Linked DNA regions of Homo sapiens. The protein of the gene in region 1 interacts with the protein of each later gene in a pairwise test. Each region holds a gene or a part of one and is shown in the gene's direction. Other genes may lie near its edges. The genes, in order: TMEM132D, TNFAIP8, MME, GFM2, ANKRD31, TPST1 and CCDC85A.

What was found.
Region 2: the proteins of TMEM132D (region 1) and TNFAIP8 interact in a two-hybrid assay, tested with the Homo sapiens proteins (one large-scale study listed by BioGRID).
Region 3: the proteins of TMEM132D (region 1) and MME interact in a two-hybrid assay, tested with the Homo sapiens proteins (one large-scale study listed by BioGRID).
Region 4: the proteins of TMEM132D (region 1) and GFM2 interact in a two-hybrid assay, tested with the Homo sapiens proteins (one large-scale study listed by BioGRID).
Region 5: the proteins of TMEM132D (region 1) and ANKRD31 interact in a two-hybrid assay, tested with the Homo sapiens proteins (one large-scale study listed by BioGRID).
Region 6: the proteins of TMEM132D (region 1) and TPST1 interact in a two-hybrid assay, tested with the Homo sapiens proteins (one large-scale study listed by BioGRID).
Region 7: the proteins of TMEM132D (region 1) and CCDC85A interact in a two-hybrid assay, tested with the Homo sapiens proteins (one large-scale study listed by BioGRID).

What each region holds. Positions count from the first base shown.
Region 1 is NC_000012.12:129,893,638-129,898,046, reverse strand, and holds part of TMEM132D (transmembrane protein 132D precursor), read left to right. Parts: intron 1-4,409. UniProt on the Homo sapiens protein: Regulate neuronals morphology via inhibition of the WAVE regulatory complex (WCR), a complex that controls F-actin cytoskeletal dynamics.
Region 2 is NC_000005.10:119,386,387-119,390,795, forward strand, and holds part of TNFAIP8 (tumor necrosis factor alpha-induced protein 8), read left to right. Parts: intron 1-1,357; exon of another isoform or gene 1,358-1,366; coding exon of another isoform or gene 1,367-1,406; intron 1,407-4,409. UniProt on the Homo sapiens protein: Acts as a negative mediator of apoptosis and may play a role in tumor progression.
Region 3 is NC_000003.12:155,111,319-155,114,818, forward strand, and holds part of MME (neprilysin), read left to right. Parts: intron 1-3,500. UniProt on the Homo sapiens protein: Thermolysin-like specificity, but is almost confined on acting on polypeptides of up to 30 amino acids. Biologically important in the destruction of opioid peptides such as Met- and Leu-enkephalins by cleavage of a Gly-Phe bond.
Region 4 is NC_000005.10:74,756,574-74,760,982, reverse strand, and holds part of GFM2 (ribosome-releasing factor 2, mitochondrial), read left to right. Parts: coding exon 1-81; intron 82-1,556; coding exon 1,557-1,614; intron 1,615-2,036; coding exon 2,037-2,134; intron 2,135-4,409.
Region 5 is NC_000005.10:75,067,477-75,070,926, reverse strand, and holds the end of ANKRD31 (ankyrin repeat domain-containing protein 31), read left to right. Parts: intron 1-2,262; coding exon 2,263-2,408; 3' UTR 2,409-2,630; downstream 2,631-3,450. UniProt on the Homo sapiens protein: Required for DNA double-strand breaks (DSBs) formation during meiotic recombination.
Region 6 is NC_000007.14:66,239,355-66,243,763, forward strand, and holds part of TPST1 (protein-tyrosine sulfotransferase 1), read left to right. Parts: intron 1-970; 5' UTR 971-1,071; coding exon 1,072-1,916; intron 1,917-4,409. UniProt on the Homo sapiens protein: Catalyzes the O-sulfation of tyrosine residues within acidic motifs of polypeptides, using 3'-phosphoadenylyl sulfate (PAPS) as cosubstrate.
Region 7 is NC_000002.12:56,182,229-56,187,143, forward strand, and holds the start of CCDC85A (coiled-coil domain-containing protein 85A), read left to right. Parts: upstream 1-1,761; 5' UTR 1,762-2,396; coding exon 2,397-2,672; intron 2,673-3,469; exon of another isoform or gene 3,470-3,542; intron 3,543-4,915. UniProt on the Homo sapiens protein: May play a role in cell-cell adhesion and epithelium development through its interaction with proteins of the beta-catenin family.

The sequences.
Region 1 (4,409 bases):
ATGTACTGGACCAGAAGTTGAAGTTCAGAGATGTTAAGTAACTTCTCCAAGTCATAGCAACATAAAAGACAGGCAGAGTCTGAATTCTGATGCCAGAACCCATACCCCTGGCCATTCTGCTGACTTCTGATAATTATATGGAATAACTAAAAACCAGGCGGTTTGTCAGGCAGAATTGTTACATGGTGCCAGGCTTGCCAGGGGCTGAGTGCAGAGAGGTCTTGAGACCATTTTAGTTTTTAGCTCAGAGCCTGGTATACAGATGACCCTTGATATTTGTTGAGCAAATGAATAAATGAACATCATGTTATTTAGTTTTCTCAGCATTATTTTTTCCAGCAGCAATCAGAAATAACACCTGAAAGGGATTAAAATGGGGATTTACTTCCAAGACCACCAGGGAGGTAGAAGAGATTCTCTGATGGTGTGGAATGGTTTGGTTATCTCCTAGGTCAGCTTCTTTTTTGTTTTTTTTATTTTTATTTTCCTCCTCCCCCACCTCCCTAGGTCAAGCTTCTTAAAGAACTTGCAGACATGCCCAGTGGACTGTCTTCAGGACCTGTTTATTCATCTATGTCCCTAACATGTGTAGGGTCCTGGGCAGGGAAGACTAAGACATGGCCTCTGGTCTTCCAGGACCAAAAGTGTAGGTGACACATCAGTGGTCTCTGGGAAATTATAAAGAATGAGGAAGAAGCATGCGGAATGAAGACACAGACTCTTCCTGTTTGCAGAAGAAGGATGCTTGATGCTGTGAACATATGCGTTGTTGATTTTGATGTTTGACGCCAGACAGCACACTTGAATGAATTGTGGAGATGATATGGTGCGGCCTCTCACAAAACGAAGAGGAAACCAGCATGGATTTGTTGTGACATGGGACCAAAGACTCGGAATATTTTTAGATGACTTTGTCATTTATTTAAAAGAAAAATCTGCTGTAGGAAGAATTAAGGGGTACATACCACAGTCAGAGGCTAGGTGCTTCCGTCACCTCTGTCCTTAAACATTGGTTTCAGGAGTCACCCAAGGTGCACCCCCTCCATAAATTAAGAATTGATGGAGAAGGAAGGCCCTTGACCTTGAAAGTAAACAAACCTGTGGCATGCATCTGAAAAGCGACTGAAGTACATAGTTTTAGAACAGATCAGTCAACAGTTATAAAGGTAAAAAACATGCCTTTGAAAGAGAATTCAAATAGCCACTTCTCCTCCCTTAAGAAGTAAGTAAAGTATATAAAGTAAGTAAAGTATATAAATAAAGGGAAATTCAGATGTACATTTGGAAAGACAAGAGGTTCCACTCTTAGGAAGTAAGTAAAGTATATAAATAAAGGGAGATTCAGATGTACATTTGGAAAGACAAGAGGTTCCAAAAAAGTGTTTAACTTTTAGTGACATTAAGTTATTCTTTTCACGAGAGTGACATTAAATGTTTATGTTTATGGGAATCTCCCTCTGCAGATTCACTAAGAAGATGTCTGTCAGATTTCATTGTTGTTATTTGTTTGTTTGCATTTTGGTCAGGAAAGCTATACTGGTAGATGGGAAGACGCTTCAGTGATAAAATAGCCTGCCGAGACTCAAAGAGTGTTTGGCAGGATATTGTGGCAATAAAGTATTTTGATATCAAAACAGATGGCGACATTGCCCTGCCTGCTCTCATTCCCTGCTGCCCTGGCCTCTCCTTTCTCGTGCAGATGAACACCTGGCAGCCACTGCCTCTTGGAACAGCAGAAGGCACGAGACAGGAAAGTCAAGGCCAAGCATGATGGCTCATGTCTGTAATCCCAGCTCTTTGGGGGGCCCAGGTGGGAGGATCACTTGAGGAGTCCAGGAGTTCAAGACCAGCCTGGGCAACAAAGCAAGACTCCATCTCTACAAAAACAAAACAAAACAAAACAAAAAAAATGAGCCAGGTGCAGTGGTGTGTGCCTGTTGTCCCAGCTACTCTGGAGGCTAAGGTGGGAGGATTGCTGGAACCTGGATGGTGGAGGTTGCAGTGAGCTGTGATCATGTAATACACTCTAACCTGAGTGACAGAGTGAGACCCTGTCTCCAAACAAAAAAAAAAAAAAAAAAAAGAGAGACAGAGAAATCAAATTCCTGACTTTTGATTTCAAAAGCTGGTATCCAGCAATAGAGAAAAGATTTGGAAGAACCTATCTTCCCAGGCATATGGTTTCTCAGCCTTTCTCTTCTTCCTTCACCAAGTAATTTTTTTTTTTTACTAGGGGAAAGGGCAGGAGAATTTGGAGGGCAGCTTAGATGCTGGTGGGCTTTTCAGCTGCTCTGTGCCACGTCACTCCAATGACAAATTAAAAATATTCTAGATTGACTTCGTGAATATATTGGGAGAGCCACAAATGAAGACACTCTGTCCTAAATAGCCTGGAGATGAAGCAGAAGGAATGTTCGTATGAGGTGACCAGGCAGCATGCCCGAGCATGGCTCAAATAGCAGAATCTTTTCCTGGCAGCCAGGGCTGTGCAGGCATGGCTGAGGAAGCCCAATTGGCCCGAGGAGGCCTTGTGGTCAAGACCAGGGAGGCACAAACCATAGTCTGTGTGGACTGACCACAGGAGACAAGATATCATTTGTACCAATCACAAAGCCCTCCTGGTTGTTGTGGTCACTCCGAACCTCTCAAAACTTAGAAGTGATCCCTGAAATCATTGGGTGGGGTGGGAGTGTGGCAGTATCTACAGAGCTTTGTTTTGCTACTGGATAGAATGTGGAGTAAAGATAGAGATTTCAGTAACGTTACAAACAAATGAAGAGGTCTGTATTCGGTGCTTACTGATGCTGGGCACTGGGATTAGCGCTCACCCCAGCACTGTTGTCCACACAACGGTGACGTGTACCTGGGGGGTGCTATGCTTTGGTGGATTCCCAGCAGCTCAGATGGTAGCAGATGGTGTGGTATGAACCTTGAGCACGTTCCAAGGAGACCCCAGGACTCTGTCCCCAGCCCTGCCCAGGTGAACATTTGTATCAGAGGTGGCTGTCCAAACAGATGAGCTCCTTCGCGCAAACCTCAGAAGAGCAGCTACACAGAAGGGGTGGAGTGGTAAGGCCTTTGCGTGGCAGAGTTGTGACCAAAAGCTCACCTGAGATGAGGACAATCTAACATGTGAGACAAAGGGGATATTGCAACATGCTGAACGTAGATCACACACGCTGACTTGGGAGGTACGAGAGAGGAGTTTGAGAGGAACACGTGTAAAAAGACTTGGAGATTCGTATGAAAATAAGCTTAATAAGAGTTGACAGTCATGAAACTGCCAGAGGAAAAAAAAAAGAGAAACTACAAGAAACCAACAAGGAAGGTGCGAGCTCTGTGGGGTGTCTTGTCAATGTGTCTTATGGAAGCGGAGGCCTGGAAGGCCAGGAGCACTCATGAATAATCATAGTTTTATCATTATGGATGTGGAATATCCTCATGCTTTATCCTGACTCCACACCATCAGGACTCTGTTACATGAAGCTTCGAATTATCTTAAGAGACTTAGGAGTCCAGAGTTGTGCTGATTTTAGATGAGGCTGACCCGGGGTCTTTAAGGATCCCACCAGAACCTGCTTCATCTCTCTCTACCTTTCAGACCCTCTTTGTTTCTGCTCTACTGGTGGATAGGCCTTGATATCCCCTTGGCTGAGTCCCCTCCCAAATCTCACCTTGAATTGTAATAATCCCCACATGTCAAGGGTGGGACCAGGTGGAGATAATTGAATCATGGGGGGCGGTGTCCCCCATACACTCTCATGGAGTGAATAAGTCTCACAGGATCTAATGGTTTTATAAATGGGAGTTGTCCTCCACACGCTCTCTTGCCTGCCACCATGCAGGCTGTGCCTTTGCTTCTCCTTTGCCTTTTGCCATGATTGTGAGGCTTCCCAGCCATGTGGAACTATCAGTCCATTAAACCTCTTTCCTTTATAAATTACCCAGTCTTGGATGTGTCTCTTTTGGCAGCATGAGAACAGAATAATACAGGCCTGGACAGTGTGATGGACAAATGACTTCACGCCCAGCCTCATCTGATGCTGGTGGGGATCAGAGAAGGCTTCTTTCCCATTTCTGTGGACAAGCCTCGGGATAAGCTCTGTAGGGCGTGAAAATCATGCTCCCCTTCGATCCATCCACTGAGGGATGGGAAGGTGTGGAGCAAGGGTCAAGTGCCCCATGGCAGGAGGGCTGGACCCAAGGCAGGACCAGGTGTGGTTTCCAGATGTGTGAGTGAAGGCTGAACAGAAAATAGGGCTGCTGTCTTGCTGGCTCAGTTCACACAATTATAATTTATAGGACAAATAAAGTATTTTCACCATATTGCATTGGCAATGGATGGATGATATCAAATCCAGAGAATTGTGCTACATTGGTCTCCTTCTGCTGAAGGGGAAAAATGGAAA
Region 2 (4,409 bases), on another chromosome or scaffold:
GAAGAGCCATTTGCAATATTATCAGTTTTCTACAATTTACAGAGTATAAAATAGCTAAGCGAAGGACAATAAAGGGAATCTGGAAGAGTGCCTTAGACAATTCCTAATACTCCCGTCAAAAGAACCCAGTGTTTTGTTTTGTTTTGTTTTGTTTTGCGGGGGAGGAGTATTTCAAAGTCACCATTTTCTCTGACATGTCTTCTTTACTATGTTGCCTTTTAAGGTTAGCATGTATTTTTCTGGAGTATAAGAAACAGAGTGAATGACTTAGCTTGCCACTGTAATGGTGCCTGTCACTGGTTCTTAACCACTTGGGGGGATGTGCATATACCCCAAAATGTGCATTCCGTATCAGGTTAAGGACTTCAGATGTATTGATTCTCCCAAGACTATGTTCTGTGTGACAGCCTCCATCTGTGTGGCATAAGGCCAATTTTGGGATTAAGGTGCCTGGCACTTGTCTTCTCTCTCTAGTTGATAAGATTGCCTCCAGCTTGCTGCCATGGTCGTTGCTTCTGACCCTTCCAGGGCAGCCCCCTTTAGAGTTCATATCTGTGCTGCTTCTACTGGGTCTCCCTCCCTCCCTCCCTCCCTCTCTTTCCTTCCTTCCTTCCTTCTCCCTCTCTCTTTCCCTCTGTTGTTTCTTCTCTATGCTGTTGAATTTCTGACTTTGGGATTTTGAGTATGAAAGCTGGTGACACTGACACATCACTAGCTACTCCGAGCGTTCATTGCTTTTCTCTGGAGCACTGCCAAATCTCCATGTAGGGAGGTCAACTCTTCGCCTGCTGACTTCTTATGACAGGGTTCGTTGTTTGTTCTGGCCACTTTCTTATCACCAAAGCTGACTTTTTACTAAGTCCCATTAGATTTAGAATTATTTAGATACAAGAGAGCTAAGGTTTTATATATTTATTTAAAGAACTTTTATTAACAGACAACAGCCAGACATGCTTTCCAAATTATTATCTTTTCTATCCTTCCTAATATTGGAAACCTGGATCGAGTTTTAACTAGGCAAGAATTTGCAATGTATGTACATCTGTTGTCATCACTGTTAAAGAGTCCCAAGTATAATAGATTTGAGGGGAAAAAATTATGTATTTACTGGTAAGACTGTAAAGAAAATGATTTGAGTACTTTATTAGAAAATTCTCAGTGGGAGTAGTTATGTTATGGGGCATTTTTGTTAATTTTCATAAAACTAAGTATTAATAACAAAGGACTTTTTTTTCCTTCTGAGCATATTTTTTCTTGAATATTTGGGTCAGTATATTTTAACCATATTTATCTCTAACTTTATAATTTTGATGCTAAAGCCAGAATTCCCTAAATATCACTTTGCCTTACAGCAAATGTTGCTGAAATGGCCAAGGGAGGAGATACAGAGACAGAGAGGGAGGGAGGTAAGATAAGTAATGTAAAATAACATTTACACCCTATTTCTAGAAAATAATCTTAAACAGTTTTAATGTGGTGGTAATGCTTTGTATTTTTTTTTAAATACAGCATTATTCTTCATTAATGAACAATTTACATGTCTGTTTCCAAACACAAGTGAATTGATCTTAAGAGGCAAAAAACTGAATGAATATTTTCAGCACTTTCTCCTTGGGGAACATCTCCTGTTTACATCTTAGTTGCTTCCCAGGACATGCCTTAGGTATCCCTCTGGCACATGTCTAAACATAGATCCAGCCAGAAGTAGAGGTGGGCCTGTGTTTAATCTCCTGCTACAGTTCAAGTCAGAACTACACCTTGCTTTTACTCTAAATATTTGCATTATTGTCCTTGGATGTTTTCCCATTATGCACAACAAATCTCTCCTCTTTAAAAGAACTGGTTGATGACAGTAAGAGAAATCATACTCTGGAGCGCACTTAGAGGGAAGAAAAACCACATGTTTAGTGAGGTAAAACAAATACCTGTTTTTCTACCTTTTAATACAACAAACAAAAACACCCACTAATGTATTTACAACTCTCGTTTTACAGGCCAACATGTTTTCATAGAAAAGTATTTGAGTATATTGTGGATGAGATAGGGGAAATTGATTGCTGCTTCTGGACCAGCCACTCTCTAGGCCTGCAAGTTGACACAGTGAACATGATACACAGAATCTTTGCTCTCAGAGTTTAAATCCTAGTAGGGAGAGGCAGACAATAAAAATGTAGGCAAATGAAGAGGATTTAAGGAACAAGGAGGTGTGATAGTTAGCAAAGAACTTACATGAAGCATCTTTTTTTTTCTTTTCTTTTCTTTTCTTTTCTGAGACAGGGCCTTGCTGTGTCGCCCAGGCTGGAGTACAGTGGCATGATTATAGCTCACTGCAGCTCTGTAGCCTTGAACTCCTGGGCTCGGGCAGTCCTCCCACCTCAGCCCCCTGAGCAAATAGGACTACATGCCCAGCTATTTTTTTTTTTTTTTGAGTTTTTTTTGTAGAGACAGGGTCTTGCTATGTTGCCCAGGCTGGTCTCAAAGTCCTGGGCTCAAGTGATCCTCCCACCTTATCCTCCTAAAGTGCTGGGATTACAGGTGTGAGCCACTGCGCCCGGCCCCATTTGCAAATTTCATTTCTTGAAACTCTGGCTGATATGTGAAAAGAGATAGAAAGGGGTTTGGACTAGGCTGCTGTCCGTGGAGATGGAGGGAAATGGATAGAATTCAGAGAAATGCAGGAGGAAGGTGGAATGGAAAGAACTTAATAATGGACTGGGTGAGGGAGAGAATGGTATGGTGGATGATCCCCAGGTCTCTGATTTGATTGAGCAAAAGGTTGGAAGGGATGCTATTAATTGAGATCATAAAGAGTGAAAGAGGAGCACTTAGTAGGGAGGCAGGAGAGAATCAAAGATCAGTTTTGCATATGGTAAATTTGAGATGCCTGCAAAATAGTCAAGGAAAGAAAAATCTTGAATGCACTTACAAAATGAGTCCAGAAAAGAGGTCAGGGCTGAGTTATGGCTATGGGAGTCATTGGCACATGGGTGGTATCTGAAGCTGTGGCAGTGGATGAGATCACACAGGGGTGAGGATAGACTGAAGGAGAAAAACTTGATCCAGGACTAGCTCTGAGATACACCAGACTTTTAAGGGATCTGGTAGAGCATGTGGAACTGACAAATGAGCCTGCACAGGAATGGCTAACAGCAGTTAATTTGCAAGAAAAAGAAACAAACTTCATGAGCACAGACCACACATCCCTGGCCAGCGACTCTCAGCCACAAGCCCCAGTTGGCTTCAAAAAAACTTTCTCTAATGCTGGAAAATAAATCTACTCATGCATGTCTTCTTGGTGGAGGGGGAGAAAGAGCTTCAGATGGTGGAGGGGAACAAGGAGCTTCAACCTCATTTAAAAAGACGACTTCACTGGAATAACCCAAAGAATAAAAGGAAAGTGTGACACAGCTGCTGTGTTTCTGGAGCGGGGTTTGAAGTTCCTCTAGGATAAATATGAAAGCCTCAGAGATCAACTTCTCTATCTTGATTCATACTTGATTACCAGTAAATGGGGAATGATCTTGCTTAGTTGGCAGTAGATTTGCCTGTTACACACTCTCTTGCAGGAAGTTGAAGTGCTGTATCATAGAGTTTTTGTTTTCCATGTTTGAAGTTAAATGGGATATTGAGATTTAATCAGAAAAGTAGCTGAGAAGAGGTGTAAACATGAAAGTCCAGTCTTGGATAAAGGAGAAATCTTATGAATACCTCTCCCTCTGGTTTCAATATTTCACAACATAAAGTATGTCCAACTGATAGACTTGTAGTAAATCCCAGGTAAGATATTTGTAGACTGTGCCATGTTCTAAAACATTAAAAAAAAACACAATAACATTTCAACTTTATATGTAATATATTACTGAAATCCTGGTTATCTGCTGAGTAGCTGAAAATGGTTGGGTATCCCTATATAAATCAAGTTTATTGATTTTTTTTGAGGTCTATATCAGGAGTTCTAAGATGAAATATGGTCCCTGGTTTTAATGTGATACTGTTAGCTACATGGATGCCATTTCTTTTGACATAAATTCTTTAGTGTGAATTAATCTTTATACTCTTTTGCAAATCATTGAAGAATAGGAATAGAAACAGATTTCTGCTTAAATGATAAAAACATAAAACATTAAATGATGGAAACTTCTCCATAAAGTTGGCTGTTTCTCACACATTTTCACTTTCCTTCTCTTTTTCAAAATATATTTTAGTTCTTCTGCAGTTTCAGTTCATGTTTCAGAAGTTTAAATTTCGACATTTGTGAGGGGACCCTTTCTTATTCAATCAAGACATTCTTTGAGTGGATGTATGGCACTGTATATTTATAAATGATGTTCAGGTCATAAGGAACCATTTTGCAGCTGCCTCTACTATATACCACGAACTACTTTGGTCCAAATTTCAAATCTAATTTG
Region 3 (3,500 bases), on another chromosome or scaffold:
ATATTCATCAGAACAGAGAGCGCTCTTTGAAGTGATTGGATGCATCCATGCTCAGACAAGCTCGGTGGTCAAAGGGAAATTTTAAAGAGTGGCCCTGGAAGGAGTTAGCAAAGTTGCCTCTTCCTCTCTCTGCTCTGCACATCCCTCACAAACTGAATGTTATTTCTTTGGTTTGTTGTGCAGATGCAAGTAATTTAACTGTACTTTTTGCCCCCTGGGAGATGTGGGAAGTACAGTTGCTTTTACAGGATGGAGAATTTGCACTCATGATCAGAGAACTGAAACTTCCAGCCATCCTTTTTATTCAGAGTGTTTAAGGACCGGTGGTATTTCCAAATAGGCAGTAGGGCTTGTTCATGCTCTGCTTGTTCATTCTGCTTGTTCATTAATTGTTCACTACTTTTCTGAGTAGAGTTCATTGCTCTGTGATGTCGTGACAGAAGCTTTCATTTCCCCAGAAAGAGGAAGAAAACAGAAGTGCCCCCTCCAAATGGCATAGCCTTCACAACATTCAGTTTAAATGTTTTTAAGTATCTTAAAAGAGAAGAGTTATATATTGCTAAGTGTGTTCTTAGAATGTCTGTAGTTAGCACTTCTTTCAGGCTCTAGTTTTCTGGTTTTTCACTTTACATAATAATCCTCTATGTATTTAGGATCTTTATTTTTCACCTTTCCCGTTACCATATTTTTATTTCCTTCAAAATTCGAGGGAATTGCTTTTTCTCTCTACCTTTTTTAGATCAGTTTCCTAGTCTTTAACTGAGGTGTTAAAGTTGGAGTTTTTACTGGCAAGTCTTGACTGAGCACAGTGTTAGGCTCTGTGAGAGAGAATATGCATTTTCTATTTTCACAGAGCCACAGTCCAGGTGAGGAGATAATGAATTTGCATGCGAAAAATGAATATGTTGTGAGCTGATACAGACTTTTGTCAGGCCAGTCTTTCATAAAGAAGTATTTGGAATGGGCTTTGAAAATGCCTGAAATTCCAAAATGAAATAATATGAAATAATATTTATTAGTACGTATAGGGGCTGGGTAACATGCTCAAAGTTACAGAGGCAGAAAACCATAAGGTGTCTCACAGAAACTGAATATACTCATTTAACTGTGACAGATGGCTCATGCGAGAAAGTAGCAAAGGAGAAGCTTCATTCGTTCTATTAGTGTTAGAATGTGCTATGGAATCTGGATTTTATTATGATTGCAAAAGGATGGTATTGAAAACTTTGGAGTGGAAAATGACATTCTGAAGTATTTTGAGAATATGAATCTGCCTGTGGAGTACAGAATGGACATAGGTAAGAAGAGGCCTGGGGCCACAACTTTGTCAAAAGGGCACAAATAGAGTCTGAGAGAAAGAGGGTTTGAGACAGAATGGAAACAATGGGAAAGATGGAATGGACTCTGGAGGCAATGAACTGAGAACGGATCTGACCTCTGTGGCAAGGGGAGAGGAGGTGAGTGATGGGCTGTAAGAGAAGGTGGTAAGAAGACTCATAGATGATTCAGTCACACATAACCATAATTGCACCCCTGTTACCTAGGTGCTAGGTGATACAAAGAGATTAATCACATCAACAAAATGGTTAGGTAGACAGAGTAGGTATTTACAATGAAAAACTCAAAGTAGTCTCACATTGAAGACAGAGTGAGGCAATGAGCTCTCAGGAGTCAAGAGAAATATTCCTTGAAGTTTGGAGTCACAGAAGCATCAGGGAAGAGATGGAACATGAGCTGAATGTTGAATGATGGGTAGAATTTGGAAAGAATGACAGGGGCAATCAAAGCTGTGGGATGAGGAGGTTAAAGCAAAGACACAGGACTAAGAAAACACAAGGAGTGTTTGTGACACATTGACGAGGGCCATCTGGTTGGAACAGAGTTTGCATAAACCACCAAAAGAGGAAAAGGGGAAGGTAGGGTGATACGTTTATTCTGGTAAAGGTTTAGACACCAAGCTAAAGATTTTATTTTTATTTCTGAGATAGTCTCTCTCTGTCACCCAGGCTGGAGTGCAGTGGCGCTGTCTTGGTTCACTGCAACCTCCACCTCCCGAGTTCAAGCTATTCTCCTGCTTTAGCCTCCTGAGTAGCTGGGACTACAGGTGCCTGCCACCATGGGCAGCTAATTTTTGTATTTTTAGTAGAGTTGGTGTTTCATCATGTTGGCCAGGCTGGTATTGGACTCCCAAAGTGCTGGAATTACAGGCGTGAGCCACTGTGCCCTGCCAAGCTTTTATAATTTAACCTGGGAAATGTCAAGCCACTGACATTTTTCAGCAAGGTTGTGGCCAGTGTCAAAGAGTCTTTCGGGAAGTTTGGTTTGTGGAAGATGTGTAGAATATATCAAGATGAAGAACTGGGTGACTTCTAGTCAAAAAGGAATGATGATATAAACCAGGTACCAATCAGAATGAGAGGTATGGAAGAGGGGCAAAGGAATTACCAGTAAACCAAGGGGAAATAGAAATACAGTTTTACCCAAAGTTTCAAATCCAGGAGGCTATGATAGCAACTGTGCTGTATACTAAGGCATACAACTCATGAGATGACTGGTTTGGTAACAGTCCTGAGCGTTTTGTTTTAAAGAGCTGGGTCCTGAGGTTCCAGACAAGCAAACATGCCAAAAAAGTGGTTCAATGGGGGGGCTTGAGGCTCAGCTGGAAACCATGTTTACCATACCAAGTTTAAAAAATCCACACAGCTCAGCAATTGTTTGAAGTTTTTAATTAATTAATTAATTCATAAAGTGAAGTATTTTCAAAAGCTCATCTGAGAGCTTATATTCTCTTGATACAGATGAATTCTCAATTGCTCTTTTGTTTTCATTGCAAAACAGTTCAACTTGTATGAGACTCAAAGTGGGGAGGGCAGGAGCAGAATTTTCTCTGTTCCGGGTATAGACATTATGGGTATTGGGCCATATTCTCCTCTTCGTTGGTAATAATTCCTATTTTATACATCTTTCTATCAATTGCAGCTCCTACCAGAGTCAACGTCTTGATTGTAAATACTCAGTGTTGGTTGATTTGCATTTTCATCATAGTCCTGAAAGATAAAAGTGGACCTAAGAAAAACTAATAAGCTTACAGCCAGTTTTATAATGACAGACTCTATATAAACAAATGCAAATTGGATGTCAAATTTGAATTACAAAATTTATTTGAGCAAGGTCCAGGAAGTAATAACAGTGTCTTCAGATCTTTTCTAAAATGATAAAAATTCATTAACAATCTTCCATGGCTTGGAGTCTCAGAGACTTTCAAAAGTCACAGCACTTTGAAGAGCAGAGTTGGCAACTAAAGTTATCAGAGTGAAGAATGGCATGCTAACCTCAGGTGCAGGATGGCCAACTCAAAGTAGACCTCTATTCTTTGTTCTTCTGAGATAGGAACTAGCCAGAAACTTAGTTATTCAGGGGTGGGGTGGGAAGGCTGTGGGACCCAGGGTGGAAGGACCCACACAGTTCAAAATAAAACGAACCAACTATAGTGAAGGAAA
Region 4 (4,409 bases), on another chromosome or scaffold:
TATGCTGCTATAAAATAAGAGCAAGTTTAAAAAGATTAAAGCCACATGTGCCGCTTGGAAGAAATTGCAGTTCTCTACCAGGTACAAATGTTAGAGTCTTCTAATTTTATCTAAGCTGTTTGCTTTATCTCTTTTCTCTCTCTTGTTTGCAAGAATCTCCCTTATTAGGGCTCTGTAACCATTTTTTACTTCTTGGCTATTTCCTTGAGATTATTAGGGGCGGGAGTGTTCAGATAGGTGCCAGAAGGAAATACTAGTAGAGTTGTGCTCCTTATCTGAGGAACACGCTGATGAACTGAGCAAAGGAAAGGTTGGTGGCTTTAGTAGCTAGTTTGCAAGTTTAACATGTGAGTGTAATTGTAGAGTGCTCTTGTGAATTTCTTTTTCTAGTTTATTTCTGTTTTTTATGCAAGTGTTTTCTGTCAAGAGAGATTTACTAGAATAATTTATTTTGAGGATTGTTATAAGTAGTTTGGCTAAGTATTTGGGATTGTTTAGGTTAGATACATGGCATCAGAAGCTGGAAGGTGGAGGAGTTGACTTACTTTTGAATGTCCTTTCTGTGTTTGAAACAAGCAAGTGTATGGTAGACTCTATGAAACTAGTTTAATTCTGTTGCTGTTCTCATTACTGTGTTTGTCATGTGAGAATAATAGAATAAAAATACTGATTGGCTGTTGACTTACAAGGGCAGATTAATTTAATGGGCTACGTTATTGGTGTGTATCTAGGTCTCTGAATTTGGCTAATATGAATTTAACTGTAGTAGTATAGATTATCTTTTGATCTTCAAACCACCATGAAGTTTCAAAAATAATATAAAATTCTCCTTTTTGTATTATAGAAACATGGGAGAAATGGTTTAAATAACAGGAAGGCTTTAATTAAATTTACAAATGTAACTGCCTTGTTTCTTTAGAAATTACTTCTTAATATTAGTAAACTATATATTAAGCATAGAATAAGCCATATGGACTTTTTTATTTAAGAAATACTGCTTGGCCTTTCAAAAGTATTAAATTGTTATAGCTTCTATTCAGTGAAACCTCCCAGGCAGTCTTTAAAGGTATTGTGTCCTGGGATTGCTGAGGAAGGCAAGTTCCAAATTGTATAATAATTCATTATCAGCTGACATGAGGATCACTCTTAGCTCTTCAAACCCTGGAAAAGGCAGGTTTATAGGACTGTGCATTTAAAATTTTTTCTTTGATTCAGGATCATTGCCTTAAGATTATTATTATGAGCATTTATTCTAGTTCTACAATTTTGTAAATGGAAGTGAAGTAGGTGGCAGAGATTGGGGTGAATCTGTATTTTTCTGAGGATATGATCTAGAACTTGATGTTTAAAACTTTTACCTTGTTTTATTGTCATCCATAGCTTTCCTTATACATTGCAAGGAAATAAATTTTAGTTTATTTTAGATTTATTTAGCTTGAATTTTACTTTATTTGGACTTACAGTATTTGCTTAAAGTTATTTTAAAGTCTTTCATTTATAAATTAAAGGAAAATTTCATAAATGTAACAGTTCAATTTTAACTTTCTTTTCATTAGGCTTAATAGGAAATGATATCAAATCCCTTCATTCCATCATCAATCCTCCCATAGCTAAGTAAGTACTATCATTATATCATGCTTTTCCATAGACTGTCACGAAAATTTACAGGTTTTTTCTGATGGACAAGAGTGAATGCTGTAATTTCTATGACTTTCTGCCCTAGCCAATTTTAAGTAGATGTTGATAATGTATCTTAGCTATTTTTTCTCAATTAATGCTAAAAATTTTTAATGTAACAACAGCACACTTTTCTAGAATGAATATAAGATAGTCTCAAAATTGTAGGTTGTAGTTAGCCCTTTTGTTACTTAGCTATCTTATCAGAGTAATGTGGATATACTCTAAATGTTTTCCATTTTTCTAGTTTTTACACAGTTTTATAAATTATAGAAATACCAGCTTTGAAATTTGGATAGCATATATACTTTGGTTTTACAATTTTAGTAAAGTTTACCTTATTTTTTCCTTTTAAACAGAATCCGTAATATTGGAATTATGGCTCATATTGATGCAGGCAAAACTACCACCACAGAAAGAATATTGTACTATTCCGGATATACAAGATCACTGGGAGGTTAGAATGGATTCCTCCTCTTCCCACCCCCCCATTAGCAAAAGCATCATTGGAAAATATTTTGGTTAACAAGTCAACTTACACACCTTGAATATGGCATAGAGCTACTGATGTCTAATCCACAATTTAAAGATAAGATAGTTGCAATACCCACCAAAGGGTCTTCTTAGATTCAACTAAATATTCAGACTTGTAAGACTATCATAGGCCCCACTGGACACTCGTCTACTCAGAATGCTACAGGACAGGAACCACAGCTTACCAACAGACCAGCATTAGGTGTTTCTTTCTAGTAGAGTCCTTATAGCAGTCCCCGTAGCTATCTGGGAGCTATCTTCTTTGGCTGCTCCAGAGTAATGGATTAGATGCAAGGTGACAAGATTCATAGGAGCCACCCTAGCTTAGAAGATTCATGCCCCATAGGAATGAATGTCTCTTGTTATAACTTCATAGGCATAGCTTCCAGGTGTCACCTAAGGTACATGCCATACACAGGGAAGCCCAGAGTTCGGTATCTCCATAAGGTACTTATATATATAATTCATTTATAGTTCTTCGCAATTCAGATTTAGTTTACCAATCAGAAGTTGTTTTTTCCATAAGTTATATTGCCTAGGAATGTAGTTGACATACCTCTGTTATCTGGTTTCTAGAAGAAAAGAACCAAAAAAAGTAACCAGAAGTTAAATTCTCACATCAAAGAGGATTTTGTTAATCCTTAACCAAGTTATCTTTTGTCTTTTAAATTGTAGTTAAAAAAACATAAAATTTACCATCTTAACTATTTCTAAGTGTTAACTATTTTGGTAGTGTTAAGTATATTCACATTATTGTGCAACCAATCTTCAAAACATTTTCATCTTTCAAAATTGAAATTCTATACCCATTAAACAACTCCCATTTTCCCCTTTCCCCGGTCCCTTGCAACCATCCTTCTACTTTTTCTTCATGACTTTGACTACTCTAGGTACCTCATATAAATGGAATCGTAAGTATTTGTCTTTCTATGACTGGTTTATTTCACATAGTACAGTGTCCTCAAGGTTCATCCATGTTGTAGCATGTGTCAAGATTCCTTTTTAATTTTTTAATTTTTTTTTTTTTTTTTTTTTTTTTTAGAGACATAGGCTCTTGCTCTGTTGCCCAGGCTGGAGTGCAGTGGCCCAGTCACAGCTCACTGCAGCCTTGAACTCTTGGGCACAAGAGATCCTCCTGCCTCAGCTTCCTGAGTAGCTGGGACTACAGGCAGGTGCCACCACACTTGGCTAACTTTTGTATTTTTGGTAGAGACAGGGCCTCAGTGTGTTGCTCAGGCTGGTCTCAAACTGGGCTCAAGTGAAGATTCCTTTTATAAGGCTGAATAATATTCCATGTGTTTTTATTTATTTATTTCAAACTAATGCAGTTTATTATAACAAGAAGGAAATCAAGCTTTACAGTAATTATAGTCACTAAGCTGAAAAATCACCTACAAAAGTCATGGCAATAACTTATTTACAGTTAAAAAAGAGAATATCAAGATCTTGCTCTCATAGTAAGGTAAACTAGACATGTACACAATCTTATGATGCCAAGAAACTGAATATATAAAAATAGAACCCACATAGAATGTTCTCTCTCTCTTTTATATACACACACATTTGCTCTGTGATTGCCCTTAATTTTATGTCTTTATCATAACTGGTTTATTATATTTATAATTAAAGATAATCTTAGACTTTATATTCTAAAAAGCAACTAGGTTAACAGTTTTCTCCCCTAAGGCTTATTTTATTTTATTTTTTATTTCAATAGGCTTTTGGAGAACAGGTGGTTGGTTACATAAGTTCTTTAGGGGTGGTTTCTGAGATTTTGGTGCACCCATTACCCAAGTAGTGTACACTGTACCCAATGTGTAGTCTTTTATCCCTCACTCCCCTCCTGCCCTTTCTCCTGAGTCCCCAAAGTTCATTGTATCACTCTAATGCCTTTGCATCCTCATAGCTTAGATCCCACTTATGAGTGAGAACAAATGATGTCAGTTTTCCATTCCTGAGTTACTACACTTAGAATCCTGGCCTCCAATTCCATCCGAGAATAGTGGTCTCCAGTTCCATCCAGGTTGCTGCGAATGCCATTATTTCGTTCTTTTTTATGACTGAGTAGTATTCCATGGTGTGTATATGTGTGTGTATATATATATACACACACACTTTACACTGTTAGTGGGAATGTAAGCTAGTACAACCACTGTGCAAAACAATGTGGAGATTCCTTTAAAAACTAAAAGTAGAAC
Region 5 (3,450 bases), on another chromosome or scaffold:
GGGACAAGATCTCACTATGTTGCCCAGGTTGGCCTTGAACTCCTGACCTCAGGTGACCCACCCATCTTGGCCTCCCAAAGTACTGGGATTACAGGCATGATCCACTATGCCCAGCCCCAGACAAAATTTTTAATAGACACTTTCCTAGTCCTAGGAACTTTAATGGATGCTAAGTATATGAAAGATGCTTATGCTAAATACTAATCAGGAAGATGCCCGTGAAAATAGTAGACAAATTTTTCTACCATCAGAATGGCAAAACTTAAAAAGACTGATAATATTCAGTATTGGCAAAGATGTGGAAGAAAAGAACAGGTACTGTCACACATAGTCTCATAATACTGTTGGTGGTAGTATAAAAGGATGCACTTGGGAGGGCACTCTGGCAGAACCTCTTAAAATGTAAAATGTTTACAGACCCCTCAACTCAGTAATTCTGCTTCTGAGTATCAATCCTATAGAAGTATTGGCACATGCCTGAATAGTGAAAAGTGAGGAATAAATTATGAATTATAAACAAATTATGGTAGATGCATTAAGTTTTTCAAATCATAACTAAAGTGGGGGATAGTATCTTATAGAGGAAAAGACCAGTGTTAAATAATAGTGTTTAAATGATGAAACTAGGCTAATTTTGATGAAAAGAATTTAAATTAATATGTAAAGATTTATTTCTATGGGTTTTTCCTAAGAAAAAAATATTCCTTAACTTTTATGAGATACCTTGTTTCCGGAAGTCTATAAAACAAAGCTCCTAATAAAGGAGTTACTATGTTTACATATGGACCATGTGTAAAAAAGTTTAAATTCTTTGGATTATAAGTGATGATTTAAAACCCACATCAGACCGGCCTCAACCCCTCAAAAAGGAATTTTATTGACTCATTTACATGAAAGACCAGGAACAGATCTTCAGGTTTCATTCAGGGTTCAAAGAGCATGACAGAGCACCAGTTTCTCTTGCTTTCCATTTCTCAGCTCCATTTCCTCATTTTGGCGCCATCCTAATAGCCTTTCTTCTCATCATCCCAGGGCTACATGCTTCCAGGTTCAAGTCTAAAAAAGAAGACTCTGTATGTGACTCTTTGCCAAAATACCCAATAAAAATCTCATTGCACTTTGGGAGGCTGAGGCGGGTGGATCACCTGAGGTCAGGAGTTGGAGACCAGCCTGACCAACATGGCGAAACCCCATCTCTACTAAAGATACAAAAATTAGCTGGGTGTGGTGGTAGGCACCTATAATCCCAGCTACTTGGGAGGCTGAGGCAGGAGAATCACTTGAACCTCGGAGGCAGAGGTTGCACTGAGCCAAGGTCATGCTATTGCACTCCAGCCTGTGCAACAGAGTGAGACTCCATCTCAAAAAAAAAACCAAAAAACAAAAACAAAAACAAAAAACTCATTACATGTCACTTCTCTCTGAATGGGATATGTTCTGACCCCTGAATCTATACCTGTTCACTCATTGGTGTAGATCTAAGCAAATCAGGAGGTTGAAAACAACTCTACCAGAAGCATGTGGGCCAAGCATGAAGAAAGGGTTGGCCATACAGAGGTGACACTCATATTGTTGCTATCTGTGGAATAAGATTCAACTTGCTGAATGATGTACAGCTCATATAGCCAATCTCAGAGAAGAAAAAAAAAAATCTCTCAGACTGTCAGGGAGCTTGAAGAAACCAGTTTTAGGACCATTAGCCCCATAGACTGGCAGAGCCAAAAGGAACCCTCTTTATCATCACTCCTCTCACATCTCAGAGATGGAAGTCTGGAAAAGCCATATGACTTGCTTGAGATCACACACCAAGTTTGTGGCAGAGGCAGGACTAGAAATCATGCAGCCTAATACTCTTTTTAGTACTAAATAATAATAGCGTCTAGTATTTATTGTTTGCTATATGCCCGGCGGTATGCTAAGAATTTCACATGCAAAATCTCAGTTAATACAACTGTTTTATTCTCCGTTTATTGGAAATTGAGGCAGAGAGGAGCTTGTACCACTACCTTCAGAAGCTTCCACCATCCTTTTTCTGCTGATGTTTTAGACTTCAAACAGGCCCCTCTTTCCCAAGATCAACCAATGCTGGTTCATAGCTTTGTCTTGAGTACAGAAAATAGGTTGAGGGAAAAGGTCCTGATCAGAAAACCTGTTATGTGTGCTCTCAAATAGACTTGATTGGATTCTAGGATTTGTAATAGCAAAATTTACATCTTAAATTTCAGAGGGCAGTTTTTAATTTGTTGATACTTCTTTAAACAGGAACTTCCAGAGAGTCAATGCAAAGCAGCCCACGTTATCTACAAATAAATGAAATACTATTAATCAGTGATCAAGAATTTCTCCCATGCCACATAATGGATCAGCATTGGAAGTTTTGTGTGGAATGTGAGGAACTAACACCCTAAAACCTTGGTTTCTTAATATTTTATTGGATATTTGTTCAAATTACCAACAAACATTTATATTTCATCTTGTATAATCTGGTGGGCCTATTTTAACATACACTTTATGAGTTGCTATTTAGGATGTATGTTTACTGTTCTTAAGATGTATGTAACTGTTCAACAATTATATAAGATTAATGCTTTTTTGCCATTGAAATAAAGGCACATTTGAACTAGACCATATTGATTGGCTCTCTGGCTTTCTTTTTACTAATATAAACTTAAAACTAACTTTTCAATCAACACCTCTACCTTTGTATAAAAAACAATTGATCCCTAAGGAAATGAGGATACAAGTAAGTGTAATCCATGGATAATTGGTCCTAAAAAGGCCCAGGTTAAACAAATCCCTTAAGAACTTAAAGTCCTAATACCTTTCACATTTCCTTTGAAGTTTTTCTCAAAATCAAAATGTAAAATTATGAAGGAGGTTTAAGTTTCATAAAATTTAGTGTAGATAGGATTGTAGCTGTGGTAAGTCTTGGAACAAAGAATGAATCAAGTGTTGATTTGGAGTCTGATCATTTAAAATAGAACATCCTTCACCTTTGACTTTTGCTACATTATCACGAAGACTTTTTTTAAAAAAAAGAGATATATTTAAGAGATTTTTCAGTTTTCTCAAGGGTCTCTCTTAATCCTTTGATAGCCAAGTTACTCTTTCCTTGTCCTTCATTACCCCAGGTTCCCAAATAAGCTTTTGGCTCCATGGCCTTATTTATCCCTTCTATTTCTTTTGAGTATAGAAGTCAAAATTGCAATAAACATAACAGGCATACCTCAGAGATACTGCAGGTTTACTTCCAGACTACTGCAGTAAAGCGAATGTCAACTAAAGGGAGTCACGTGATTTTTTTTCCCCCAGTTTCTATAAAAGTTATGTTTACACTATACTGTAGTCTATTAAGTGTGTAAAGGCATATCTTAATCAATGTATGTACCTTAATTTAAGAATATTACTAAAAAATATGAGCATCTGAGCCTTCCGCAGGTTGTAATCTTT
Region 6 (4,409 bases), on another chromosome or scaffold:
TTGTCCCTTTGCGTATTTCCACGGAGGCACTCATCACATTTTATTGTTATTGTTTACATATCTGTCTGTCAAAAGGCTTTGTTTTCCAACAGCAGAAGTTACTATACTGTTTTCCTTTTCAAAGTTGGTCCTCAGTCGAGCCTATCTGGTCTGTAGTACCTAAATAAATTGTGGGATAATAAACTGAATCTCTGTTAAAGATTTGGAAGTTGTTTCATATTTCTTCTATAATTTCTCATTGTTAGAATGTGGAGATAATGACTGCTTGGAGGTAAAGCAAGTCTGAATAGCAGAGATCAGCCTTGGGTTGGACTCCAGACATTCTTGGGCTTATTAAATATTTGGTTGACTCACTGATAGAAATAGTTTTATTTATTTTCCATTCTTTACCAGGTACATAGCTTCAAAATTACTTCATTAACAAAAGCTGTTTCTGATTATAAACATTGATTTATTTTTACTCAAATTTGTATATACTGTATATACTGAGTAAAACAAATTTTACTCATTTGTTTTTGTTTTGTTTTGTTTTGTTTTGTTTTTTTGAGACAGAGTCTTGCTTTGTTGCCTAGGCTGGAGTGCAGTGGCATGATCTCAGCTCACTGCAAGCTCTGCCTCCTGGATTCATGCCATTCTCCTGCCTCAGCCTCCCGAGTAGCTGGGACTACAGGCACCCGCCACCATGCCCAGCTAATTTTTTTTGTATTTTTTTTTAGTAGAGATGGGGTTTCACCGTGTTGGCCGGGATGGTCTCCATCTCCTGACCTCGTGATCCGCCCGCCTCGGCCTCCCAAAGTGCTGGGATTACAGGTGTGAGCCACCGCGCCCGGTCTCAATTTTGTTTTAAGAATATCAAAGAATCCAAGACTGTTTCAGCTTCTTTCTACCTAAAATGCAGTGGTGATAACTGGTGACTGATTTGTAAGCAATCTCAATGTAATGATAAATAACCTTTTCCTTTCTCTACTAGATGTTGGTTATCTTTCTGAAGTAGACTGTCCATGGCCTGAACATTTTCCGAAAATCATTTTGAGCAAAATATCTGTTTAATAACAAGATAACCACATCAAGATGGTTGGAAAGCTGAAGCAGAACTTACTATTGGCATGTCTGGTGATTAGTTCTGTGACTGTGTTTTACCTGGGCCAGCATGCCATGGAATGCCATCACCGGATAGAGGAACGTAGCCAGCCAGTCAAATTGGAGAGCACAAGGACCACTGTGAGAACTGGCCTGGACCTCAAAGCCAACAAAACCTTTGCCTATCACAAAGATATGCCTTTAATATTTATTGGAGGTGTGCCTCGGAGTGGAACCACACTCATGAGGGCCATGCTGGACGCACATCCTGACATTCGCTGTGGAGAGGAAACCAGGGTCATTCCCCGAATCCTGGCCCTGAAGCAGATGTGGTCACGGTCAAGTAAAGAGAAGATCCGCCTGGATGAGGCTGGTGTTACTGATGAAGTGCTGGATTCTGCCATGCAAGCCTTCTTACTAGAAATTATCGTTAAGCATGGGGAGCCAGCCCCTTATTTATGTAATAAAGATCCTTTTGCCCTGAAATCTTTAACTTACCTTTCTAGGTTATTCCCCAATGCCAAATTTCTCCTGATGGTCCGAGATGGCCGGGCATCAGTACATTCAATGATTTCTCGAAAAGTTACTATAGCTGGATTTGATCTGAACAGCTATAGGGACTGTTTGACAAAGTGGAATCGTGCTATAGAGACCATGTATAACCAGTGTATGGAGGTTGGTTATAAAAAGTGCATGTTGGTTCACTATGAACAACTTGTCTTACATCCTGAACGGTGGATGAGAACACTCTTAAAGTTCCTCCAGATTCCATGGAACCACTCAGTATTGCACCATGAAGAGATGATTGGGAAAGCTGGGGGAGTGTCTCTGTCAAAGTGAGTAGAAGATACGTTTTTTATTTTGACTCTATATTTAGCTAATAATGATCTATACATATGTATGTATGTGTTTTATGTATATATGTGTGTATGTTCCTGTGTGTATATATAGAAACTGAAGACCTTTTCTGGAACAGATACAGCTTCATTGATGAGGTTTCTTTTTTTATTAATTCTCTACTAGTTTATTACAGATGTTCACTTATTTATACTTCATTTTTTCATTTATATATCGTGGCCCTCTTTATTTGTTTGATGGATACAAACCCACCTTACAGGCGGTGAAAAGCCTTCTTCAGGGTCTCAGACCTTAATGCCAATCATTCAGTTTTAGTGGCTTCTGATTTCTAATTTCTAGATATTGTTGTTAATGAGGATAGTTGGCTTTTGTGTGGATTAAGGTTAAAATCAGGAAGTGCATATATCATGTTAATGAGCACATAGTGAATTATAAGCATTTTGAAATTTTTAGTGGTAGAGAAAAATAAAAGCTTCGTCTAACCTAATCTCTTCATTTTATGGACAAGAAGACTGAGTCACAGTAAGATTAAAACGATTTGTTCAGATTTAGATGGCAAGGCCAGAATTCGAATCTGTGCCTTGGTCTCAATGAGGTCGTGCTTTTCTCCGTGGCATTTTACTACGTGTTGTGCTTCCTTTGTCATCTGAAGGATATAACCTCTCTTATTTTTTACAAAAGGCTAGAGAATCTCCAAAATTTGGAAGCCTAATCCATACAAGAAGTTCCTTGGATTCAAAACTTCTCAAATGATGATTTTTAGCATTTTGCTTCTTTTCTTATGAAGTGACAACTAGTATACCCTCTAACCTGTCTTGATGACTTATATACCTGGAATGAGGATATAAAAATGGAAACTACTATTAAATTCAGGTAGCATCTCTTCATGAAGAAGAGTTGGCTATAACTAAATTTTATTTTTGTTTTTTTTCTTTTATCAAAGTAATATATAACACCTGTAAAAAAGAAATATATAAGGTGTTATATATACATATATAAAAAGAAATATAAAAGGTGTTATATATACTTTTTATCAAAGTAATATATAACACCTGTAAAAAATACTTTCCTTGTGTGCCCTTCTTACTTTCACCAAGGAATATCTGCTTAATTTTTTTTTGCTGTATAGAACTTGTATAGTAAATAGATTTCTTATGTAGATAATCTCAAAGGAACAGCTGCCTGCCTGTACCAAGCTTTCAATTATTGATTATAAGTTATGACATACCATCATTGTAGTGGCTCTAGGTTGTTTTTATTGATTCAAAGAAAATTTCAGCTCTGGCTACTCTGATTGCAGTTTATTATTATTTCCAGATAATAGACTATAATTGATTTTTAATCACCTGTATTAGGTATTTCAGTCTTTGTGCTTGTATGTTGGCCCGGCACCGATGCCACCTACATCTGCTAATATAAAAGGAGGCCATTAGACCACCAGCCTCTTCAGTAGGGATTAAAGAGATATGCTTAAGTTAAATTTTGGTGCTAATCAGGAAGAGAACATTTTGTGTATATACTTGCTATGTTTAAGGTAAACATAAAGGCCAAGAAAATTCATAGAAATTATATTATGAATTAATGAATTTTAGAAAGTAAAGAGATGTTACTTAGCATTTCAGTATGTGGAATGGAGGCCCTGTAAGGCTCTATGTTTTTTCAAAAATTAACATGTCACAATCATGAGTAGAACCTACCATGCTTATTCCAAGATTTTTGCATTTGGGGTCTTTCTAGTTTGGGGCTATTATGGATCAAAGTTGCTAAGAACGTTCTTGTACATTACTTTTGGTGGATATAGCATTCATTTCTTTTAGGTATATACCAATGAATAGAATTGCTGGATGACAAGGGGTGTGTGTGTGTGTGTGTGTGTTTGTGTGTGTGTGTGTGTGTTTAACAGATACTTTCTAACAGTTTTCCAAAGTGTCTCTATCATTCATGTATGGCTGTACTGTAAATGAACATGTTCTAGTTGCCTCACATCTTTACCAACACTTGGTATTTTAGTCTTTTCTGGTAGGCTACAATTGTTTTTTAAAACTTAAAAGCAAAATAATATTTGAACCCCTTTTTGAAAGAAAATCTTACCCAGAATTCCAATATAAAACAAGAGCTGCTTTGGTTGAGGTGAGTCTAAACTAGACCATATTTCCTTCTTTTGTTTTTGAGATGGAGTCTCTCTGTGTCATCCAGGCTGGAGTGCAGTGGCATGATCTCTGCTCACTGCAACCTCCATCTCCCAGGCTCAGGTGATCCTCCCATCTCAGCCTCCCGAGTAGCTGGGATTACAGGCACGCATCACCATGCCCAGCTAATTTTTTTTTTTTTTTTTTGTATTTTTGGTAGAGCCCCATGTTGGCCAGACTGGTCTCAAACTCCTGAGTTCAGGCAATCCATGTACCTCAGCCTCCCAGAGTACTGGGGTTACAGGTGTGAGCCACTATGCCTGGCCAGCCATACTTCTTTTT
Region 7 (4,915 bases), on another chromosome or scaffold:
ACTTATCTTTTTCTGACCTTCACTTTCCCTTTCTGTGACAAAACTGGTCTTAGGAACTGTGTTGAGCAGAGCCTTCTGTGGGCGTGAGAGCGGCTTGGAGGTGTCAAAGAAAAATTGCATCCGATATAGTTAAACAGACAAGGGGGAATTATTCAAGGCTATTGCAATAGGGAAGAGAGAGAGGGAGGGAGAGGGGAACTAGTAGAAGACTAGTGGAGGAGATTAGGATGGGAAGTTGGTCAGTGTAATGAGGCCATTTGTGTTTCCTAATTGGAACTTATTAAAGTTAGGCTCCTCCTCTCCACAAACACTAGGAGATAGGGACCCTTTTTTCCTTGATGATTACATTTCAAAGGGATGCCTCACAGATCCCTGAGAAAGATCCCCAGGCTGTAAAACCCAGCAAGAGGCGGAGAGATTTACATGTCAAAGGGTCAGAGGAAACATTCACCAATGGAAGTTGGCTAAAGTAAATGCTCTGAGAAAAGGAAGGTCTGGGGCCTACAGTTAGGAAGAAACCTGTCTAAAGTTTAGTTAAGCTGAGGGGAATGTTAAGGCCATTTGGTCACCGTAAGCAGTACCACATTTCCTTGCCTCTCCCGGGAGCCAGGTCTCAGTGTCCCCAATAGGGGACACGCACTGACCGGCGGGTGAAGGGACTGATTTTGATTATCATCCTACCAGATAGAGATTATTCCCTCTGCACCCGGGTTAACTGAAACCCGGTGGGGGTAGATCCTTGCCATTTTCCGGCCCTGTACCCCACTGGAAATAACATGCGGTGGTCAAGGGCATCCACCTCTTTAGGCAAAAGCATGTTTTCAGCCCAGAGACGATTCCACCCAACTTTACAAGAGGATAGCCCAAAGATAGAAGCCAGGGACTCAGACTTCCTCCTTCCAGAAATAACCATCATAAAAAAGCCGACCCAGTAAACGCCTGGCAGCCTGCGGCATAGAAGAAAATGGAAATCTCCTTGGCTGGCATTTCAGCTTGCCTGAGGGGGCTTGCTTTGCTCCGAGGGGAGGTGACTGTGCTGACCTTAAAATCCAGGTTTCAGGAAGCAGGAGATGAAGGTATTTTATTTTCGCCTAAAGGCTTTGATATTTTTCAAATAAAAATTTAAAAGATCCAGTACCTTCTCCCGAAGCTTCTTCATAGAGTAGTGGATTTTTAGAAAACACAAAGGCCTAGGGGTGGGGCGAGAGTGGGGGGTGGGGATGGGTAGCCCCATAAGAGCAGTGCCCTGACGCCTCTTTTCGCCCTTTTCAGACCATTTGGATTTTCTTAAGCTGCCCCTTTCCCCAACCCCCGTTTTTGCCATTTGCCTCTCCTCCCATTCTCCAAAGTGCAAATAACTGGTTATCCCTCAGGTCCTGCTACCCCATCTTTCCTGATCCCCGATCCCTCCAAATACGAAGCACCTCGCATTTGGGTCAGCAGCTGTTTCCCCTGCCTGGTGACAAGGCCGGTGTGCAGAGGGCAGAGGAGGGAGCTTCTTCCGCCACACGGTGGCGCGCGCGAGCCTCCCAAAGACCGGGCGGCCACAGCTCCTCACCTTCTCCCCATTCCAGCCCCACCCGCCCGGGCGCAGAAAGAGCCGCGCCCCCAGCCCTCCCGGGCAGGACAGCCGGGAGCGCACCTCGAGGGCCCGGGCAGCGGTCGAGTGGCAGCTGCGTCCAGCCCATGCGGGAGCTGCTGCGGGTTACGGGTGGCCCCAGCTCCAGGCTCCTCCTCCAGCCGGTCCCCCACCCTCCACCCCTTCTCGACTCCGCTCTGCAAATCGAAGGCTTTCCGGAGCAGCCTAGGAGCGGCCGCGGGCGCAGCGAAGGCGGCAGGAGGAGCGCAGCAGCCTTCGGGCAGCCGCGGCGGCGTCGCTAGAGCAGCCGGGGAGGCGCCGCGGTGCCCGGCGCGCCCTCCAAGCTAGGAGAGGGGAGAAGCCGGGGGCTGCAGCTGGGCAAGGGGGAGGAAAGTGCGTGTGCGTGCACGCCTGTGTGCAGGGCAGAGAGTGCGGGGGGCGACAGTCTCGGCTTAGGGCGGAGGAGAGGGCAGGGGAACGGCGGTGCAGCTCCCCCGCTGTCCCCGAGGATTTCCCGCGGCAGCCCCGGGCTCCCCAGTGCCCCTCACCATGGACTTGCGCGGAGTTGGGACGGGCCTCGGCAGCAGCAAGCGGCTGGCTGCCGGGCCCTGGGGGAGCGCGGGCGCGCGCGCGGGGATGGCGAGGTAGGATGGCCACCCAGCGCGACCCCCGCCGCCCCAACCCAGCGGCCCCTGGGCGGTGCCGCTGACTCGCCGGAGCGCACAGGGGTGTGGGCGGAGGCGGCCTCGCCGCGCCCGCGCCTTCGGGAGTCGCCTCGCCTCTTCCACCCACTTGCACCTGCCACCCCGCGGATACCATGTCGAAGGCGGCCGGAGGCGCGGCGGCGGCTGCGGCGGCGGCGGAAAGTTGTTCCCCAGCCCCGGCCGGCTCGTCCGCGGCCCCGCCCGCGCCGGTGGAGGACCTGTCCAAAGTGTCGGACGAGGAGCTGCTGCAGTGGAGCAAGGAGGAGCTGATCCGCAGCCTGCGGCGCGCCGAGGCGGAGAAGGTGAGCGCGATGCTGGACCACAGCAACCTCATCCGCGAGGTGAACCGCCGCCTGCAGCTGCACCTCGGCGAGATCCGCGGCCTCAAGGTGAGCGCGGGCCAGGTGGGGAGGCGCGGCGCGGCTGGGAGCGGGGTGCCCCGAGGAGGAGGCGGGGCCAGGCAAACTTTCCCTCCCTCCCTCAACAGGTGACCCTCCCCTTCTCCCGGTCGGCACCCCCTACCCCCAGTCCCCAGCCCCTGTGTAACTTTTCCAAACTTCGGAGGCGTCTGCTCCCCTCCTCTCCCCAACACGGGGCGCTCCACTGTCTGGCTGTTCGGGGAGGCGCTGAGGACGCTGGAAAGCAGGGAGGGAGGTGAAGGGCACGCGAACCTTTCATTTCTTAGGGAGGCTGGAAAATCTGTGCCTGGGGAGCCGGGTTTCAGTCAGTTAGGCGGAAAGGCCAGTGAGGGGGTGAATCCAGGGGATCTTCGCCTTGGAGGGTCGGGAATGCGGCTGCTCTGGGCCAGCAGCTCTTGGGCGGGCAGAGGGCGAGGAAAGGGCGCCACTGCCAGGGAGAGCGGCTGGCGGGGCGCCCGGGAGAAGCAGCGGGCGCCACCCTCAGAGCAGTCTTGTGTCACCGGGTACATAGGAGTTCAAGCTCTGCCTTCACGTCTTCTCCCAATTCCTGTGCTTTCCCTCTCCCGGAGTTTGGAAGGCATCCCCTGGAGTTGCCTTACTCCCCTTCCCACTTAACCCCAGGTTGACTGGGGGAAAGAGGAGGAGCAAAGAGACTCAGTATGGAAGGAGCAGCATTTTGACAGAGTACCCCAAGTGTTGGTCAGTGATGGTTTCTTTCTGAGCCAGCCCCCCTGCCACCCTCTTCTAGGAAAAGAAGGGAAACGTACCCCAAGCCCACTAACTTTCTTTTCTCCTTGGAGAGCGCCGGGTCTGCGAGGAGTGTGCCTGCCCAGCTGCAGTACACTAGTGGCCGGGAACCGCCCTGCTGGCGAGCACCACAAACTTCCTCTCCTTCCAGCTAGCGCTGGTGCCTCCTGGTATTCCTTCCTCTCATTGTTCTGCTTTGTTTGTAGGAAGCCAGACACAAACGAAATCACTGCAGGGACTTCAGGGAGCAAATTCCCGAAGGCACAAGCTGTTCTTTTCCCCTTTCCACTCCTATCCCCACATATCAGACAGTAGATGCTGTTCCGGAATTGCCTCAGTGCTCCAGCTCTGGGATTCTGGGGCAAGAAAGAGTGGGAAGAGTGGAATGCTCAAGGCTCACCTATGTGCTGGGCCCAGTTCAGGTGGAGATGGCCGTCTCCCGAGGCCGAAAGTCATTGTCATATAGTCCCTAGAGTGGGTGCAGGTAGGAAGATTCCTCCAGTCAGAAAAATGCCAAGGCTTACTCTCTCCTGTGGTTGAATTCATTACTAACAGAGTGTTTATTAAGTGCCAGTCTCTTTGGGGAATAGAGGCAGGCTAGTGTAGTAGGAAGATGATCTCAGAGGTGGGTTTGAATTCTAGAAACCTCATTTGCCAGGAGGGTGAGCTTGGGTAATTACTTTCTCAGATCCTCCTTTTATTCACCAATACAATGCAATGATAATAACTTTCTGAGGGTGTTATGGCAATAAGTTATGATTATGTAGGGGAAGGTTTAATACTTGACTATAAAATGGTAGTTACTGTCATCAGGAAAGGACTTACAAATCTATGGCTGTGTGTCCCCAAGATTTTGGTTTCTTAGGCAGAGCTGGACAAGGGGGCATTAGTTTGTCATCCTCTAATTTGAGTTTCTTCCATGGTCTGAACAATAGTGTGATTTAGAAGAGTTGGAAGAGTTATTATTAAATGTTTTAATAGTATGGAGCATCAAAATAATAGCTCAGAAACACTTGAAAGTTCCTTTAGGTTATGTGGATTGACTGTGTGTGATGTCTGTGTGTGGGTAGGGGAGGGGAATGGTAGAGTGGGTTGGTAGAGTGCCTGGGCTTCATTCCAGTAGCTTCATGTAGAGAAGTAGCTATTAGGTCAGCTAAAGGCCCGTACACCCAAGTAAGAAAGTCTCCTTGTGATCTAGATTCATGACCTGGCATTAAAAGACTTGCCAGTCTACTTCCTTATCAAGTTCAGAAATGATGGGGGCAGGTTGCTTTCTGATGCAGCTTCTACTCTTCTCATGTCATCCCTGGGCTGCTGCAAGGAGCGGACTCCCAGGCTTCTGGCCCACCCTGGGTGTGCTGTGGTTTTACTCTTTGGAGAGGCCAGCCTTCTCCCTTCTCTTTTTTATTTTGGCTCAGAGCTTCCTTGGACACCATAGTAATCCATAAATGTGGTTGATTGAATAA